2 separate regions of the Homo sapiens genome follow, and region 2 is linked to region 1. A link means that fine-mapping ties the variant in region 1 to the plasma level of a protein whose gene starts in the linked region. Region 1 holds a variant in brackets. A gene starts in the other region. All regions are shown on their forward strands.

Evidence for each region. A credible set is the group of variants that fine-mapping cannot tell apart. PIP is the posterior inclusion probability: the model's chance that the variant is causal. Protein levels are from antibody-based Olink assays in UK Biobank. Linkage for the fine-mapping came from a reference panel and not from the study's own genotypes, which makes the PIPs less certain.
Region 2: CST5 starts here. The variant in region 1 is the best candidate, but not a certain one, in a credible set for the plasma level of the CST5 protein (UK Biobank, PIP 0.52).

Annotation. Positions count from the first base shown.
Region 1 is chr15:63,341,812-63,351,884 of GRCh38, forward strand. CA12 (carbonic anhydrase 12) reads right to left here. Exons shown (of 11, transcript NM_001218.5): 3 at 4,719-4,898; 4 at 3,666-3,808; 5 at 191-286. It overlaps LOC124903506 (a long non-coding RNA gene), which reads left to right. Exons shown (of 3, transcript XR_007064676.1): 2 at 3-110; 3 at 2,327-2,599. Among named protein-coding and RNA genes, the nearest start is that of CA12, 35 kb to the right of the region's middle. RefSeq lists a silencer at 3,599-3,786, an enhancer at 4,542-4,711 and a cis regulatory region at 4,627. The variant T/G (reference allele first, on the strand shown) is at 5,634.
Region 2 is chr20:23,875,248-23,885,320 of GRCh38, forward strand. CST5 (cystatin D) reads right to left here and starts at 4,501. Exons shown (of 3, transcript NM_001900.5): 1 at 4,199-4,501; 2 at 2,258-2,371; 3 at 687-1,024. The coding sequence starts at 4,429. The coding sequence ends at 941. RefSeq lists an enhancer at 3,994-4,823.

The DNA.
Region 1 (10,073 bases):
AGGCACAGAAAGTGCTGCCTCCAGGCCAAGAGAGAAGGTGCACTACAGGAGGATACCCCCTGCTCTGGAGTTGACACGGAGTCGATACAGGAACAGCTGATTATCAACAGGTATGCATGGAACAAAAGGTGGAATCCCAATCTCATCCCTGCTTCAAATTTCACCTAAGAACCTTTTAAATATCTCTTACCTCAATGAGAACAGCCAGGACAGCGAGGCCTTCTGACTTGTTGCTGGCAGTGCTGGCGTCAGGATAAAGGTCTGAGTTATAATGGACAATGTGCAGCTGCAGTGGGGGAGAAGCCACCCATTAGGAGATAAGCGACTCATGGGAGCCTGTCGCTTCTGCAGAAGACTTGACTCCAACTGTGAGGACAGAACCCCAGCCCCCTCAGCCCCCCAGACTAGGTTAGGTCTCTCAGACCCTCCCCTTATTTTGCCAAGGATAAGGACATGTGCCCAAGGTGGTCAGGGCATGGCTTGTTTTGATACATTTTAGAGACATAATACATCAATCAATACGTACAAGATACACTGGTTTGATCTGGAAGGGCAGGAAAACTCAAATTGGAGGCTTCCAGGACATAGGTAGATTTAACTTTTTTCTGACTGGCAATCGGTTGAGAGTTATCATCAATAGAAAGGAATGTCTGGGTTCCAATAAGGGGTTGTAGAGACCAAGATTTTATCATGCAGAGGAAGAATACAAGTAGCAGGCTTCAGAGAGAATAGACTGTAAATATTTCTGATCAGACCTAAGGTCTGTGTTGATGTTAATGAATGTGGGCTTTTCCTAAATTCCAAAAGGGAGGAGGGTATAATGGGTCATGTCCAACTCCCTCTTCCCATCATGGCCTGAACTAGTTTTCATGTTAACTTTGGAATGCCCTTGGTCAAGAGGAGAGGTCCATTCAGATGGCAGGTGGGTGGGGTGGGGGGCTTAGAATTTATTTTTGGTTTACACAACCCATGCATTTTTGCTGGTTCTTTGTCCTTGAGACTATGACATATTGAGATTTTAACTCTATTTCTTTTCTCTTTTCATTCATCCTTTTCCATCTCATGTGTTTATAAATACAGTTCAACATATGTTATTGAATACAGCTTAATTTTCCCATTTCGAACTTTAAGTGGCTCCTTCTAACTTAAAAAAAATTATATATCAAATTATTTCTTCTTTTAAGTGGTCCTCTATTAAGGATTTCTTCAGAGCTCCTACTTCACCATCTTCCCCTCAAAGGACTTAGTCTGCCACACTGCCCACACCATCTCGGCCTGGCATCACTTTGAGAAACAGAGCTGAATTCTATATGATTAAAACCCCTGAGGTCCTAAGCCCCTATTTCCTTTTACAGCTGACCTTTGAGCTTGTGGTTTGTCTGTACTTTTCTTATTGTGCTCAGAGGAAGTGAAGACTAATCCAAGCATAAAGGAGCTCCCTGTTGAGGAGATTAAGATAGAAAGAATCTTTTTTTTTTTTTTTTTTTTTAATGGAGTTTCGCTCTTGTTGCCCAGGCTGGAGTGCAATGGCGTGATCTTGGCTCACCGCAACCTCCGCCTCCCAGGTTCAAGCGATTCCCCTGCCTCAGCCTCCCGAGTAGCTAGGATTACAGGCATGTGCCACCAAGCCCGGCTAATTTTGCATTTTTAGTAGAGATGGGGTTTCACCATGTTGGTCAGGCTGGTCTCGAACTCCTGACCTCCGGTGATCCACCCGTCTCAGCCTCCCAAAGTGCTGGGATTATAGGTGTGAGCCAACATGCCCCACCAGAATCTTCTTATATGAACTCCATCCCAAAGAACCACTACACTTCCAAGGTCCTTCCTTAGAGGACCCACTTTAGGGACACCCTGATGCCTTTTCTCTAGTATTGGCATTTATGGTCCATCTTAACCAGACTCTTGGTCTGATGCTGTGACTTAATAGCAGAAAATACAAGAAGTAGAAATATTTTAAAACACATAAACCCTGCCAATCTACACCCTAACCTCCTTTGTGAAAGGAAAATAAATCTCGAGACCCCCAAATCACTAAGCCAAAGAGAAAAGTCAAGCTGGGAGCTGCCTCCCATTCTATTCCTAAATAAGACGGCTACAAAGATAAAAAAGCAACACACCTCACATTTTGCCCACTAGGAAATTCACTGTGGGCCGCAAGGTCTTTACCCTAAAACAGTTCTGTTGAATTTCACCGTGACAATGTAAATGGATAACTTATCTTCATGGGTTCAGGACAAAGGATAGAACTCAAAGTCATCCCTCTGCTCACCTGAGACAAATGCATTTCTAATTGCTTCCTCTGCCCATGTCTGTTTTATTTTGTAAGAATGCAGATTCGCTGAGCTAGATGAATGCACAAGTGACTATTCCTCTACCCCTCTCTCACATGTGAACGGCTGATCAAAAACTCAGAAGAATGCGACCTCTTGCCTCTTACCTCCCCACACCTTTTAAACATTTCTCCCTCTTTCCCCAGTGTCTGCCCTTTCCCCTTTAAATATTGAAGCCCTCAAAATCATCTTTGTAGAAAGGCACAGACTTGTCTCCCTGTCTCCCGGGCATGTGTCCTTAACCTTGGCAAAATAAACTTCTAAATGGATTGAGTCTCAGACACTTTTTGGTTTACACCTTCTTTATTCCCCATGGGGGAAGCAGAAGTCTCAACACTGCAATTAGCCTGGAGGAAATTTCAGTTCTTGAGCTTCAGGGAAGGGCCGCTCTGAAATATGTGAACCTCCAGTGGTACCATCCTATTGAACCAGATCCTATCCCTTCCATGCTTGCAAGTAGACCTATGATTAGTCTGAAACATTAAGCAGTTCAGCAGTTATGACTGGAGGGGAATGGTCTCTATTTACCACGGACTCCCCTGGCTGATCAGTCAGCAGCATTTATCTGCTTGTATTTCCCTGTAAATATTCAGAGCCACACCCCCAGTTCAGGGCTATTGGAGTGCCAAAATGGAGCATCTCAACCCCCTCCTTGCCCCACCCCATCCTGCAATTGCATAGGACAAATGCTCTGCCCGTCTTCTAATTTTCTTTTGGCATTTCGGAGTAGCTTCTCAAGGCAACATGACACGATGCTGTGCTGGCTGACATCTTGTCCCTAGTGAGTCTGCTTGCCGTGATGCCCTGCACATTAGACTGCCAGGTACCCCTAGACTTGTGGCCAGGTAGAAGGGTGGCCCTAGACCCATGTCCCCATGTTCTAAACACAACCCATGCCCAGAGAGGGAAAGATAGCATCAAAATGATGCAAACAGCATGACATATGAAGAAAGGCTGAGAAGTTTGGGGGAGCAGTGAGCCCAGTGTGAGTCAGCAGGAGATTTTTATCTGCACAGATAGGAAGGCAATGTCTAAAAGAAGGGCATGTATGTCCCACTGGGCCACCCTGGGAATACTGCCTCCCCAGCAGCATCACTCAGTAAAAGACACAGGGACAAACTTAGCATGTTCAGGAGAAGAAAGGGACCAGGACAGTGCAGATGAGCTACAGGCTAGTGGAGTGGCTGCGCCCCTTGTGCCAGGGCCAGAGGTGGGGCAGAGAGCCTGAAGGCAGCCTGTCCCATGCTCTGGTGTTATCTGCACAGCAGCCAGGTCGAGAAGGTGCCACACCACCCACTGCAGAGCAGCCTCTGCCAGACTGGCAGCCCTACTTACCTCGGCGGCGAAGTGCTGTCCGCTGACGGTGTGCTCAGAGCCGTGCGGGTCATTCGGGTTCCCCCAGTGCAGGTGCAGCTGCGTGGCACTGTAGCGAGACTGGAGGCCCTGGATGTGCATGTCCGAGGGCAGGTTCAGCTTCACTGCGGGGAGTGGAGGAGCAGCCTTCAGAGCCCCGGCCAGCTGTGCACTGCCAGAGAGCAGTCAGGTAGGCAATGCTCCCTCCACCCCTGCTGCCACCCCCTGGAGCCCAGAGAGAGGCAGGTGGATGGAGTGAGGTGCGGAGCAGAGATGCAGCCTAAAGGTCAGACACCTGGGCTCTTTCCCTGAGAATGTTCCCTTTTCCCCAAAGCAACTCCAGTGGCACCAGCACCTTCTTGGTTCACCTTGGAAAGTGATGCCAGAAACGCTAACACTAGACCAACGGATGGGTGTTTATTTACATATTGATGGATCAGACACCTTTAGTGAAGTACCTTCCAAGCTTTAGAATTATATAGCAACAGCAACGATAACTGCTATTTATGAAGCATTTACTTCACTCTGTATGCCAGACCCCAACGTACATAATCTCCAGTCTTCACGGTATCCATCAATATGTCCATTTCCAGATGGAAGCTCAAGGAGACTAAAATTCTCACCTAGATTCTCATGGCTCGTAAGCAGTCAAGCCAGAGTTCAAATCCAGGTTGGTCTGACTCCAAAGCCTGGGCACCCCCCGCCAAACTGTGTGGTTCCTTGAATCGTTTATGGTCCAGAATTCACTCCAGCTGCACAGCCAATGAACTACAGTGCTCAGGCCGGTCTCCTGCCCCATCCTGAGAGATGTGCTTCTTCTGGGAAGTGCGGCCCTGGCAGGATCCTCAGAGCCCAGAGCCTCCAGCATCCCCTGGAGAGAGTGCTCCTGGAATCTCTCAAAGACACCCCCGCCCCGCCCCACCCCTCCTCCTGGATGCTTCCACGGAACACCTCCCTGCCAGATGGAAAAGGACAGGCCTGGCAGCTGAGGGAGACTCAGACATACCCCTCAGGTCTCCAAGGCCTCTCCCTCACCTGAATGGCCATTGTTGGTCAGGAGAAACTGCTTGTTGGCAGACAGATTGTAGCCTTGGAACTCGAGGGGCGTGAGGCTGGCGTCATACTGGAGGATGTCACTGTGCAGGTCTATGGGGGACTGCAGCAGGCCCCCACACGACGGGTACTTCTTGGACCAGCTATTCTCCCCATCAGGACCTGGACACAGAGATCCATGCTCAAGATTTAGAGTTTCTCACAAAGGGATTTTCCTTATCTTCTAATTCTCTGTTCAATACAATTACTCCTTTTCTCCTCTTTTCTGAATCCCCGGAGGTAAATCTTCAAGGCTCAGAGTCTTGGCCTCCAGAATCAGGTCCAGCAACCACTCAGGACCACCTGCTCTTAAGTGATGTGGGGAAAGAAGGACTAGGGCTGCACAGGCCAGAGCCAGAAGGCCACCGAACTCTGCTTTATTTTGTACATTGTTCCTGTTTGACACACACGTCAAGACCTGTTGACTTTCAGCAATTCAGCATCTGCTTAGCCAGTACCTATTATGAGCCAGGAATTACTCTGGGTCTTGGGGCTGCCAGGTTGAATACAATAGAGCCCCTGCTCATCCAAGCTGGCATTCTAGCGGGGAAGAATTTAGCAAATCTGCGGGGCCACCCCAGGTGGGAAAAATTAGTGTCTTACTGACCACAGTGCCAAGTATTATCTTGGTGCAAAAATAATTGCGGTTTTTGCCATTCCTTTCAGGCAAAAACCACAACTGCTTTTGCACCAACCTAAATAGGTCTTTGTGGCTGCTGGCTTTGCAAGTATGACCTTCCTGAAGAGAAACCCCTGAGGACATTGACTCTTGATACCCACATTTAGAGTAACTATAGAACCCAATCTGATAGGGATGATTGACAAATGTTAAATAATTATAGGCCTGGAATCACAGAG[T/G]GAAGTGCAGAGTTTAAGCTGGAAAAAAATATGACCACACTATAAACTAATTATTACAATATAATTGACACACTATCAGTGAAGAGGAACAGACTTTAAAAAAAGAAATTCCTCCAGGGCTCAAGCTTCTTGCTAACTACCAGATAGCAGTTCCTCCCCTGGAAATGAAAATAAACATGCTATGTGCAGATGAACTTTCCTACTCCCACAGGGAAAAAGTCTTTAAAGAATGTAAATCTATGTTTAAAAGATTATCTCCACGGTAATTAAACAGACTTTCAGGCCAAGGTTTCTCCAGAAAAGCAAAGAATTGGCATGTCATGGCTCGTTAGGGTAGACCCAGGGTGTCCTGTGGGCTCTATCAGAGCTGGGGATCAAGCTTTGCCATCTGGGGGTCCGTTCATCAGTATTTCAACACAAGGAAGGTGGGTAAATAGAGAAAAGGGGAAAGGAACACCACCTCTTCTGGGAATTCTTCTGTAGACCCCTGCACTGTTTCACAAGGGTGTAAATGTTATATTGGCCCCACAGAATCCCAACCCCCTACATCGTGCTCTCTAACTAGGGGACCGTATCTGAGAGTGGGAAGAATCCGAAGTGATACTTGGTACCCAGGTTCATTTCAAATGCTATGAGGCGTTGGTCCCAGGCTTAGTTAGTTCTTACTTCTAGGTCCGGACACACACATCGGAACCCTACTGATTTTTCAGGCTGTCAACCTTAGGCTATGCATTTTCAGAAATGTTACAGCATGACGGAATTGCAGAATCTCCAGTCCAACCTTTCACTGGACACCAGTCTTCTCACTTGGGCATGGCAGAGTCTCCGCTGAGCTCTACTATTCTTATTTTCAAGGCCTCAAAATAACTCAACTACACCAAGATGGTGACTAGGGAAGAGGGAGGCTGGAGGATATCAAAGCAGGCACTCCAGGGCCAAACTGGAGTAAGACAATTATTCAGCTGGGGGCCAAACCGAATGCTTTAGGGGCAGCGGGGAGCAGAATGAAGCAACCGTGAGGCCTCATGTAGAACCCCAGGGTCAGGAAGAGACACAGCACAGGGTAAGACTCCCTAAGTGAGGCTGCCAGCCTTTTCTGTGCTCACAATACTGCCTGGGCCCACAGCCAGCAGGGCGGAAGCTGCCAGCCAGGCATGAATGCAAAAAACTCAGGAAGTAAAGAGATGCATCATTGAGAAGCTTTCTCTTTGCACACATGACTAAAGGGAACTGGATTAGAAGGGTTTTCTTTTCCCACAGTGGAGGTTCAAAAAGGTTTCATCAAGAGGGCATTTTACTGATAGCTAAACGAGAGCCTCGTGAAGATAGGGACCCCTCATCTTCGTCTCTGTGAACCCATATTATAAGTAGGGTCACGTGCCCCCATGGGCATTTAGGAAACATTTTCCCAAAGAGTGAAAAAGAACAGAGGGCTTGGGAAAATGTGACTTGGGGAATGTTTCCTTTTTCTCTTGCTCTAAATACGCTTTATTGGAAGTTAGGACCAAATAAGGTATTTGGGGGGCAGGAAAGACTAAGGATATTAAAGGCAGTAGAGTTGGTGTTGGCAAAACCTGTCTTGGAAAGAGAAGCAGCTATGTTGGACCAGGGGAGTCCAGAGAATGAGATTCCAGCATCAGCTGTCCCAACACTTCAGTGGGTTATGTTCCCTGCTGGAGCCTCCATTGCCCTTCGTGCAAATGGTGGGGGTGGTGGGCGTAGTGGTGGGGATGGGATGTGTGTGGAAGCTATGTTCTGGAAGGTTCCTTCTGGCTCTTAAGCTCTGATATTTATTAAGAATACTAGGACTAAGCACCTTCTCCATCTGTCAGGCAAATTTGAATGAGTCAGAAAGGTTGCTCATGTCAAGGCAGCTACTGGGCATGTGACAAGGTGCCCAGGGGAACCAGCTTCGGGAATGAGGGCACAGGGCACCGGTGCTCCAGGACTGGCTGGGATCAGACAGCCATCTGCATCAGGAACCTGCCCTGGTCCTGGCTGCCATCCACAGCGGAGTTCGTCCTTGGGCACCAGTCACAGGTCTGTAGGTCAGCAAGGTCAAGAAAGCCTTGTCTTCGCCTCCTCCTCCTCCTCCTCATTGTTATTATATTGTAGTAGCTTTGATCCTTATAACTCTATAACCTTACGGGGTAAGCAAGGCAGAATTGCACCATTTTATGGGTGAAAAATAGAGATTTAAGAGATTTGCCGGAAGTTTGACTTTGGCTAAGTAACAGTTACTTTGCTTGGGTCACAGGACTTATGTGTCCTTCAGTATTTATCCAGGAGATTTTGTGCACCTGGAATTTCCTGGCTTCCCCACGCTGTCCTTGAAGACAAGGACCACGGCTCATCCATCGCTGCACTTCCCACAGTGCCTGGCACAGAGTGGGCCCTCACATGTTTACTAAGCTGAACTCTCAACACCTGTTTCATGCTTGTTCCTTTCCCAGGGAACGTGCACCCACCTTAATTCCCTCATGTATTTCTTCTCCTCAAAAAAGAGGAGGAAAAATGAGATCACTTGCTCAGGTTCAAAATGTACCCTCCTAGCTTTCTAGCTTACCTGTGTGCAAATGGTTTCTGTTTGGGGGCACTAATTGAAAAAGAAATCTGATTTCTGCCCTGTAGCCTGGGAGACGGCCTGCCAAGGAAGTTCATAGGGCCCTCCCCCAGCATGTAATGGCTAGTGGGTGTCCCCGCCTTGCATAGCTGGGGACACTGTCAGAGCAGCCTCCTGTCTTTGTGGCATGTGAGAGATAGAGGTGCCATGAGGGTGGGCACCGGGACAACCAATATCAGAGGTGACAACAGCAGGCCTTTCTGTTCCCTGAGCTGTGACATGTGACTGCACAGTGCTGGCCTTATGCTGGCCGCTACACCCTGGGCTACCATTTTCCAACTCAGTGTCAGCTTTCACACTCATGCCAAGTGCTCCACTGCCAGAAATCCTCCACTGGGAGTGACTCTCCTAAAAGAAGCATTTATTTCCAGCTAAAACTTTGCCTTTGCTCTTCTGAGTTTTGACTTCGCCTCTCCAGTTGGTTGGACTCCTCCCATGATCGTGATACAGGAGGATCACGTGTCTTTCACAGTTTGTTTTTCTAAATAAAGCCAAGGCATTATTTCTTTCCTGTCTATGTGTTTTTCCTGCTCTAGGCAAAACAGAAGTGGTCAGAATTCCTGTTTCGAAAGGTAACAAGAGATTAACATGGCACAGCTCAAAATGCCTCTCGTGATTTCTGATTGGGAATTTTGAGGCCCAGGGTGTAGGACCTGCATTATCCAAGGACCAGAATGTTTTTACAGAAAATTTCAAATGTATACAATGTAGAGAGAGGAGTGGAATGAACCCCATGTCACCCAGCTTGGACAGTTTACAATTCAGAAACAGTCCTGCCTCATCTATGCTAAGCCCATTCTCCCCTTATCTACCTGGATAACTGGAAACAAATCCAGATATATTTCATCTGTATATATTTCATATGTTTCTCTAAAACATAAGGGCTCTTAAAACCACAGTACCATGACCACACCTAGAGAGTTAAGAATTAATACCTTAAGATTACCGAATCCAATTAGAATTCAAATTTTTCCAAATAGGTCATAAATTTTTAACAGTTTGTAAATTTCAGGGTTCACATACAGTCCATATATTTTTTGCAATATTGCAATTAGAGGATGTGTTATGGCCTAGATTACAGCTTGATGGTGGAATGCCTCATCAGAGAACACCTGGGCCCCGCTCCTCCAAGGCTCAACATCTCAGAGCCAGCTTGGTCTATCCTTTGCCCTTAGTGGGTCATGGACTCCCATGCTTCCATGGGTTAGGCCCTCGCCATGTCACACTGCAAAGGCTTCCCACAGGCAACCAGCCCCAGCCTTCCTTGTTACACTGCCAGGCTGGCTCTCCTGCAGTAACCAGATCAATCTTGTCATAGCCTGGCTTGGGTGGCACCACCCCACCACCCATCCGTACACTCCCTTTCTCCCTAGCATGCCCTGCCCCACCCCAACAAGACAAAGCACAGCCTAGCTGTTTTTCATGGCCTTGAAGTGCCCCAACCTGTCAAAGTCTTCAAAGGCCCCCACATCCCGCCCCAGCCTGCCCCATGCTTCAGCCAGCTCCCTGAGCCTAAGAACAGGCTATGCCAACCCACCTTCACAAATGCCGTTATGAAAAAATCTGCTCAAATGCCCTCTTCTTTCCTCTGCACCTTTCCAAATTTCGTCCACTCTTCAAAGTCCAGCTCAGGTCCTGCCAAAGCTACCCCAGTGCTTTCTAGTCCCTGACTTGAACTTCTCGGCCAGCCTACTCGGGTTGTGCACACTAGCAAGCAGTGATGATTGTTAGCCTGCCTCACCTGTGACTGTTAGAGCCAGACTAGTACAGAAACTTATTACAGACTAGAGCTCAGAATATGAGTTTCAAAGACCTTT
Region 2 (10,073 bases), not on the chromosome of region 1:
GAGTGTAGCCTCCTGCTTGAGGCACAAATATCTACTATTCTATGAATCATGATGACACTAAGTTTTTTTTATTAATTGGAACATCATCCTTGGAAAAAAACAGTCCACTTCATGCCAGTCCCATTTGTGTTTTAACTTCTCTAACCCTAATATAAAGTTTGACATGAGGACTTTTTAAAACTTCAAGTCCAGAGAATGGGCCGGTGGGTGTGAATTGACAAAACCTCCCACCCTGGGGCACACCTTCCCAGGATAGATGACAGCAGGCACTGTTTTCTCTGTGAGATCTTGCCCATCTTTGGTCTGGCTGGCATTTCTCCCAATCAGTTACACATACACATACACACTTTTGGACTTGTTTCCATGTAAGGGCCTAAAGTCTCTTGTGGAAAGAAGCAGACATCGATCGCTATTTATTTAGTGTCTAGGGGATTTGATGAGAGCAGCTCAGTCCCTGGAGTCTGCTCAACTCTGCAAGCACAGATGGAATCCACGGCCTGGCGAGCTCCACTGAGGCCTGGCCCCTGCCTGTGGACACAGCCAGCCCCCTCCTCCTGGTCTGACCAGGAGCTCAGACCAAACCAGCAGCCCAACTTCTGGGGCCAGCAGAACAAGGAGGCTTCATAAAGGAACTGCAGAAACCCTGCCTGTGTGTACATCCCCAAACAGCCAAGAACTCAGAGGGAGGCAATGCTACTGTTTAATTGCAGGAGGTGGGAGAGTGTGCACTGCACACTGGGGCTATGAGAAGCAAGAAGGAAGGAGCAAGGGCAGAGCCTCCTGCTGAGCAACAAAGGCCTCCTGCCACCTTCTGTGTCTGTCTCCTGGTGCAGGCGCATGAGGAGACCTCCCCCAGGGTGGGGGCCACCAGTCCAGGGGTGGGAGCACTACAGGGGGTGGGAGTAGGAGGTGGTCAGTGTGACAGGCCTTGCACAGACCCCTAGACTTTCCGGCACTTGTAGTTCAGAATGGAAATTTTATCCTCCCAGGGAACTTCATTGATCTGGAAAGAGCAGAACTCTTCCTGTGAAAAGAAAGAGATGGAGAAAATGACTGTGGGTTACAGTTAAAGCCAAAGATGCCCAGGAATGGGACATCAGAATGGGGGTGAAAATGGTTGGAGATGAGACACTGCCCCCTGACCCCAACCTACCCCTGCCGAGTTCCAGGGCACTGAGCCCAACTGGGCAGTGACTGTTCCATTGCCCCTCCCAAGGCTCCAAGTCACCAGGTGACATTGGGCCTTCACCCCAGCCTGCAGGATTCCTGTCCCAGCGCAGCCCTATGAGGAGCAGCCTGTGCAAGGCCTTGGGAGCCTCAGGGGTGCAGGACAGGGGAGGCAGCTCACTGCCTCCAGCTCCTTCCACCTCCAGCACCCAGGCCAGCACTAAGAGGGGCCAGAGGGAAGAACCCAGGGAACTGGAAATTGCAACTCAAAGTGCCCGAGGTGGTGAGGAGATGACAAGGAGAGTGTGGCTCTGCCTTGAGCAGAGACCTCGAAAGAAATCCTGGGTTCTTGGAGAGGCTGATGTTGGGTGAGCTGGGGCAGGTCCAGGGCTTCTCAGCTAACAGGCATTTAATTCCTTCTAATGTGCTCAGAGTGGCTGTGGCTGCAGGCAGGTGCCTGAGGCTGGGGTTAGACAGAGCCCCTTCTTTCTGACCAGAACCCAGCCCAGCAGCTTCTTCCTCCAGTCCAACAGACAACACCCCAAAGCAGGCAGAGTTGACCTCCCAGTAACCATTACCAAGCTAAAGTCTTCCTAGCAAAACAAATTCATCACCCCTATCCACACCACTCCATCTGCACACACATAGGCATCTATATTAACTCACAGCAACCCTCACCCAAACGAATATATGCATGAACCCACATACTCCTTCACACATCCACACACATGCACACACACACTCCTGTGCATCTTCCTCATGTATGCACACATATGCATCTTTCTACATGCATAGCCACATGTGTACACCATCCCACACATTCATTCATGCATACACAAAACTCCATATGCACAAACACATTCATTGACTTCACAATACACATCTGCACATGTGTGCCAAACACACATGCATCCTCCCATGCACATGAATACATCCTTGCATACGTGGCCCCACAAATATCTGCACACATGCACACATGCCCTCCAAAGCATGTGCAGGAGTACAGATGCGTGCACACACACATACACACACACACATGCACACACTGCTCTGCGGTACTTGATGCCCCTGACCCACATCAGGCACATACCTCTTTCAGTTTTGGCTGGTCATTGAAGGGACAGTTGTCCAAGTTGGGCTGGGACTTGGTGCATGTGGTTCGACCGAACTTCACATTGAAGTAGTAGTTCACCCCACCCACGATCTACACGCGTGGAAGAGCAGGAAGCAGGGGCAGCATGCTGTCAGTTTCATGCACACGCAGGCACTTCACTGTGACTGAGTCACTGGGCTTGCCTGGGGCTTCATGCCCACACTGTCACCCAAAAGGCACACAAGCCACCTTCTCCTGCTGGCTGGCAGTGGTAGTGTGTCCCAGTCCTTCCTAGTAACTTGTTTTCTCTGGGTATCTCAAGCAAGCTGTCTCATGCAGCCCAGTAGAAAGAGAAGCAGGGGCAGGGCAGATGGAAGCCAGGGCCTAAAACCCCCTTCACTGGATTCAGGAACAGAAGGCACAGCTCTGGGGAACCAGCCAGGGTGGGACAAAGAAACAGTCCTGGCACCAGGCTTGCAGGGCAGGGTCTAAGCACCAAGTGAATGCTCTTTCCCACAGCAAAGGATTAACTGAATTCTGCTACCTGTGCTCAGGGGGCAGGGACACTGGTCCCATCCTAGGAAGGCTGCCACCTGATGATGAAATTTCAGCTAACTTCCAGCTCCTGGCATTCAGTCCACAGAGCATCTCATTCCTGCCATTTAACCCAGAGGTATTTTTCCTCATTTCTCAGTAGGAGATGAGATGCTCACATACATTGATGTTTTAGGCCAATAAACATTGCCTCCTGCATGCCTCCATTCCAGGTGTGATTTTCAAGGCAATATTTCTAAAGTGAGTCACACACCTGCATGTCTTAGGGTTGCAACTTCAGAAGAGAACTGAATGCTTTCCCTGCACAGTGCCGCCCCAAAACATGACTTGTCAGAACTGTGGAGAAGCATGGGATGAGGGACCCTGGGACCAGGGTGCTAGACCTTGCCCTGTGGAACCACACACAAGTCCTGTAGAACCACATGGAAGTCCTGTGATCCCTCCGGTGTCAGTCTGCTGCTCTGTAAAATAGGCTCCAGGGCCCAACGATCTACATCATTCTGTGCTTCACTCCCAGTGAGTGACACACTTAAGAGGGAGTGCAGGCCAGCAGGGACCACAGCACCAGGGAATGCCCCTCCTGTGCAGGGAGAGGGCTGCAGGAGGAGAAACAGGGCTGGTCTGGACTCCTCTGACTTTCCAAGAGAAGGTGGAGGAGCTCTAAAGGCTGGCAGGCCATATAGCCCTGTGGTCGCTGTGTCACTGCTGCTCTGCCATGGGACGTAGGTCAAGCTGGGCTCGGTAGCCCTGCTGAAGCTTCCTCCCTCTGGACCCAACCACCTCCTTCACTCTGCTGGGTGATTGCTGTCCTCATTTTGCTGAGGTCTAACTCTGCGTTAGCTGGCAGAGGCAGGGTCAGGCATGCTCTACCCCAGCAGGAACTCAGCTGTCCTGGGCTGTAGGGGGTGGTCAGCCAGCCTGAGAGTGAAGGCCACTAGCCATAACGGGCTGTGCCCAGGGGCGTGACTTGGGAGGGAAGCGGGGCTATCCAGGACAAGGAGTCAGGTTCCCGTGTGGCCCCTGTGGAGAGGACTCAGGGAGGAAGATGAACCTCGTGGCCTGGATCTCATCCTGAGCAGCATCAAGCCCACCCAGAGTCAGCACAGTCTCCATCCACACCTGCTGGACCCTGGGAAATGCCACAGTCATGGTACAGACACAGTGGCTGCTGCAGGTTAAAAGAGGCCGAGGGGACAGGACAGGGCTGAACTCATGCACTCACGGCCAAGGAGTGTCCTAGGGCATGAAGACCATCAGCAGACAGTCAGAGAAAGCTGAATGAGTCTGCGGTTTAGATAATGTTGATTTGCTGGGAGTGCTCTGGGGGGTGAGGCAAAAAACCCAGCTGGGACTCAGGACCCCCAGGGTGGTGGTAGCACGCACCTGCTGGTAGGCAGCCATCACCTGCAGAGGGCGGCTGTAGTACTCATCCTTATTAATGACCTTGTTGTACTCGCTGATGGCAAAGTCCAGGGCACACTGCACACTCTTGTCATTGAGGTCTGTGGCATGGATGCCACCTGCCAAGGTCCTAGATTGGGCCGAGGCACTCCCGGCCACGGCCACCATCAAGGCAGTCAGCAGCAGCAGTGGGGTGTGCATGGGCCACATCATGTTCTACTGGGACACAGAGCAAGGAGCTGGATCTCCCAGAGAGCAAAGCAGCAGAAGGCTGAGGCAGGAAGCCCAGGCCAGAAGCTAGCTGTGCATTTATCCTACTTGGGTGTCCCCCAACCCCACCTGCTCCCTGGCCCCGCCCCTGGCTCCTCCTCCTCTTTCTACCCCTCCTCTTCTGTCTCTATCTCCCTTTCCACCCCCAACCACCTCCCTCCCTCCCTAAGTTCCCTTCGCTCCTCCCATGCCTCCTCCTCATCCTCCTCCCCACTCCTGTCCTGACCGCAACCTCCCCACAGCCCTGCCCCTCTTCCTCAGTGCTCTAAAGCTTGGCTCACTCTGGATTCCAGAGAGGTGACACCGCTCCCTGGGCTGTGAAACCTGGTGACCACCTATGTCCACAGGAAAGGGAGAAATACAGGGCTTGGCCTTCTAAAGTCTTCAGATGTCAGGGGCATCCAGGAGCACGTGGTCATGGTCTGGGAATTCCTGGGGCAGGGAGCTGTTTCAGAAGCTCCGGGATGACCTTGTCCATGCCCTCTTCTGGGGAACTTCTTTGCCAAACATAAAGTAATTAACCTTTGGGTAAAGTTCACTGGGTTCTCGTTTCATAACTCCTCATTATTCAATAAACAAACCTGTCACCAGCTTCCCCCTGCACCAAGCAGTCTGGGCAATAGAGCCGTAGACATGAACTTGCAGAGCTGCCATCCAACAGAGATGTGACAGAAACCCAGGAGCAATTTAAAACACATTTGAAAAAGTTAAAAGATACAGCTGAAAGTAATTTTGGTATTTCTACTTTAACCTAATATATCCAAAATACTTCAACACTTCAGGACTATTCTTAAGGAGCTAGTTTACATTCTTTTGTGTGAGTGTAATGTCTTGAAGTTCCCTGTGTATTTTTTACAGTTAGACCAAGCGTCACTGTGGACTAGCCCCATTTCAAGTGCCCTGTGGCCACGAGTGGCTGCTGGTGGCTGTGGTACTGCATAGCCCAGCCATTAGGGTGTGTGGGAGGATGCAGAGTGGTGATCAACAATTTAGATCAGGGAATTATAGTCGCTCAGTTAGAGAGAGGGTGGGTGCTACTGGACCCTGGTCAGGGAAGTCTCTAAGAGACCGGAAAGGTTGAGAAGCCCCAGGCAGCAGGGAATAGTCAGTGCAAAGGCCCTGAGGCAAGGCTGGGCATGCCTGCTCCAGGAAGAGGAAGCTCCTGGAGGGGGTGTGAGCAGGGAAGGGAACGACCTGGAGTCTCACGGTAACTGTGGGTGTGTCCAGGTGGAAGGCGCAGGGAGACCCCTGGCAGGTGGTGGGGGTGTCAGGAGAAGGAGCAGCAGCCACAGGATGAATGTGGGAGCCCAAGAGCCTCTCTTGCTCCTCCCCTCTGGGAGACGTGCTGCCAGCACTGGTCCTCTGTACACTGCTTGGAAAACTCATGTAATATTTTAAAAATTACATTGAATGAGGTAGAATTTACACACAATAAAATGCCTAATTGTATGTGCCCAATCTGGGGGATTTCATAAATGCATACACTTGTGTTACCACTTTGTCCACACCTGTGATATCTGCCTCACCCCAGATGGTTTCCTCCTGCCTCTGAAGCCCACCCTCATGCCCACCCGACCCTGGCAGCCCACATCTGGTCCTGTGGACTCCTTTGTTGCCTGTCCTTGAGCTTCCCAGGAATGGAATCCTGCAGAGAGAGCCCAGGTGTGTCTTCGTCCTTTGCTCAGCGTGGCTTCATTGCCAGGATTGAGAGTTCTCCTTCTCCACAGACTGAGAGGATGTGGTCAGTTGGGTGCCCTGTGGGCTGACAAAGCCCCCAGCTCGGGATGCTGTGGGCCTGGACTGGAATGTGACTTCAGGAGTAGGGAGGGTGGAAGGAGGCTCTGAACAGACAGCTGCTCCCTTTGTTCTCTCAACCCCCCCTCCATGCCTGAAGGTGATCCTGCGGCAAATGCCCTTATGGCGAGGTGGCAGGCTTGGCCAGAAACACCAGGAAACCCTGGGCCTTAGCAGGACACCCAGAGGACTCTCCTGGGAGTGGTGGAGGTGAGGGTCGGCCAGGATCAGCCCAGACCTGCTATAATCCTGGGGCTCCGCCATGGCTGGGGCTGCATCAGCAGGAACCCGACAGCGGGAACAATATTACTCATGGGTGCTCATGTTCAGTATGAGGACAGGGGACCTTTTTACCCAAGGCCCAGTGACCATTGCACCCCACTGTGAATCCAGCACCCCTAGAAAAGCCATGCACTCCAGCAGATACAGCAGGTGGCCCAGGGATAGTGTTTACTGCTGGGTGAGGGAGGGAAGGTCTTCAAGCAGGGCTGCACGTGATGCCTCCTAGTTAGACAGGAAATTGGGGGAGATTCCCAGAGAAGGGAAAGAGAGGGCAGTCCCTGGCCAGGTGCTTGTGGGCAGAATGGTCATCTCCCAAGTGTGGGAGTTGGGTCTCCTCTGTGGCTCCCACCTTCCCTGGCCGCTAGGTCTCAACTCTCAGGAGGATGTGTTGTGCAGAGGGTAAGCTGAAATACATACAAATCTCTCCTATCTTTTATCATTAGGAAGGAGATGCAGGTCATCCACATAACAGGCATATGGTGGTGGGTGGAGTATGGGGTGGGAGCTGGAGTGCTGGCCTATTTCCCTGTATGTGATGCCACCGCCAGTGGTCATCCTCTGTCAGGACACTGGAATGAGCTATAGGGAGGGTCAACAGGCCTGATACAGTGGCCACTCTAATCTTTGTAGTCAGACCCCCATGTAGGGCACTCTCAGGAACTACAAGAGATGCATCCAGTATGGGTGATGGTAAGTGGAAGGTTAGGGTAGATGGACAGCTGCTCCAGCTGCTGGGTGACCTTGGGAAAATGTTTTGCCTTCTCTATGTGTCATGCATATGGAAAGGTGAGCTGCTTTGTAAATGGTGGTGTCTGGTGGTTCAAAACCAGCAAGATAAGTTTGATTCTGCAGTGACATTTAAGTGTGGTTAAAATTTACAATAGCCCAGTGTTATGGCATGCCTGTACACCTACTCTTGAGGCTGAGGCAGGAGGATCTCTTGAACCCAGGTGTTCCAGACCACACTGTGCAACACAGTGAGATCCCATCTCAAAAAAAGATGGAGACTTAGTTCCTATAGCTTACAGCTCCAATGACAGGCTGGCAGGGACCCAGAGATAAACAATGGACTCAGGACCAAGCCTGGGGCCTCCAGCACCTTCGTAATCTGGAGGAGTCCAGTTGCCCAGGAGGGGGCATGTTTCCTTTCTGCCAGTGGATGAAAGAGAAAGCCGTGTTCTCCCAGGTTGCGTGTGTAACTTGATCCCATGATTGAATTAGTAGAGTGAGAAATTAGGTGAGTGACAGAAGTTCTCTATAATAAATAAGCAGTAAAGGGAAACACTAAACAATATTATAACCAATAAATACCTAAGGGCATAAACATCACCTAAAGTGCAAGTGGTTAGATCAAGTTGGCCAAGAGTTGAGATTCTGCACATCCGGGTTTTGAGCAATTAACATTCAGTGTCTGTGATAGGAGATGGGACTGAGCAGCCACGGGATTTGTTGGCTTCTCAAAGGGGAAGCCCAGAATCCTCCTTTATGGAGTGCTGCGAGTTCTCTGGGGTCAAGCTTGTCCCTTATGCACACCCTTCCTCCTTCCCCCTCCCTGCTCCCAACTGTGGGGGACCTGAGATACTCCTGGACCATTGGCCACCATTGGTAAGCATCTGGGCTCTGATGGGGATGAGGCCACATTATTATGAACTCTGGTACTTGCTGTGAAGCATGCCCAAAGCCCCTACAGGAAAAGGGCGTACAGAGCCCAGGATCTGAGGTCTGAGAGTTTGGCCCTTTATGGAGGGAAAGAGAATCCTTGGGAAGTTTCCTGCTCAGGGATCAATGTGTAAACAGCACTTAGGATTTTAGATTGCAAGGTTACTATTTATTTTCTCAAGGAGTACATTCTTCCTAGCAGAGCCATGGCTAGAGAACCACAGCCGAGTGGAGAGGACAGGGAGAGTTCCTTGGGAACTCGGGTTGCTTGCTGATGCACCCAGGGACTTCCCCCAACTCCCTGGTCCCAGCCTGCAGGGGCCTGGCCCAGGAGAATACAGATGGCTCTGAGGGGAGAGCAATCCCCTTGGCATCTCTGTGTGGTGAGAGTTTCCTTTCTAATCCCCATTCAGGTCACTGCTGGGACTTCCCTGTCACTGTTTGTCTAACCTTAAATATCAATTCCTTTAGCAGACTGCAGTGGCTGTGGAGAGTGGTTCCTGTTCCTGCCTGGAATCCTGTTACACTCAATCAGTGGGTGCTGGAGCTGGAGCCAGAGGCCATCAGGACAGCCTGCCTGCTCTTGTGGCCCTGCCTGCCCTCTCCTCCTGTCACAGAGGAGCTGGATCCAGTGAAAAGACTCTCTAACGAAACTTTAAGGCTCCTCTGAGCCTTCTTCACTAGGCCTCAACCTTGGTCTCCAGCTCCTACCTGCCAGGTCTGCATTGCTCAGTTTTAGGAAAGAATCCTGCTTCCTTTTAGGGAGAATCCTGCTGTCCTTGGGGTCTGATCACCCTTGACATCTGATCAAGTTCCTCATCCCTCAGCTTTGATGTCTAAGGCTGTGTCCTGCCTTTAGCAAGAATCCTGTTTGGTCAGTTCAGCCAGAAACCCCTACCTTTGATGTCTCTGCTTAGTAATTTTTTCTTCACTAACCTCCACACCCTGCTCCTTGGCTATAAATCCCCACTTACTCTTTTTATATTTGGACTTGAGCTCACTCTGTCTTATTGTGAGAGTGTTGACCCCATTGCAATTGTCTTGAGTTATCTCAACTAAGGCCAGGCTTCCAGCAGTGAAGCTCCTCATCCCCCTGTCCATGACGTCATCACTGGACTTCCTGCAGGCACCACCAGTTCAGCATGTCTATTGCTACAATCATCATTTTGCCCACAGACCTGCCCCTCATGGAGAGCATGAAATGTAGGTTGGATTCGGAAGGAAAGGGCTGCGCTCCACGAGTTGCATGGCAGTTGTAGACACCAGCAGAAACCATGCAGTCTACGGAGGAGGAGATTTCTCCCTCTCTGGACCTCACATGGGATGGACTGTGGGTCTCTGCTGGGAGGGATGTTCAGAGCATCCTGTACACATCAGTTACCTACTGCTGCATCAGAAGCCACCCCGAATCTTCCTGGCTGAAAGCAACATGATGTGTGGATTCTTATGACTCTGGAGCTGTCCGCGGCTCTTCTGCTGGTCTTGTTAGGTTCAGTTGGGGGCTGCATTCAGGTGGGGTAGGCTGGAAATGTGCTCAGCGGGGATGGTGAGCATCTCTTTCCAGGCAGTCTTTCACTCTCAAGAAGGTGAGAGGATACTTTTACATGAAGTTGCTGTCCATGATCACATTTCAGGAGCCCACCTCCCAGGAGTGGCCTGGCCCCAGCCATTGCAGCGTATCTATACCAGTCCACTATAAAGTTGCTATTTTTCACTTTATCATTAACAAATATTGCATAAAGCAATGCTTTGAAATACGATTATATCCTACTTCTTATCAAATTTTCACTTTCTAGCTTTAGCATACAATGATAATTGTTGCTTGAATCAATTGTTATTATGACTGTTGTGA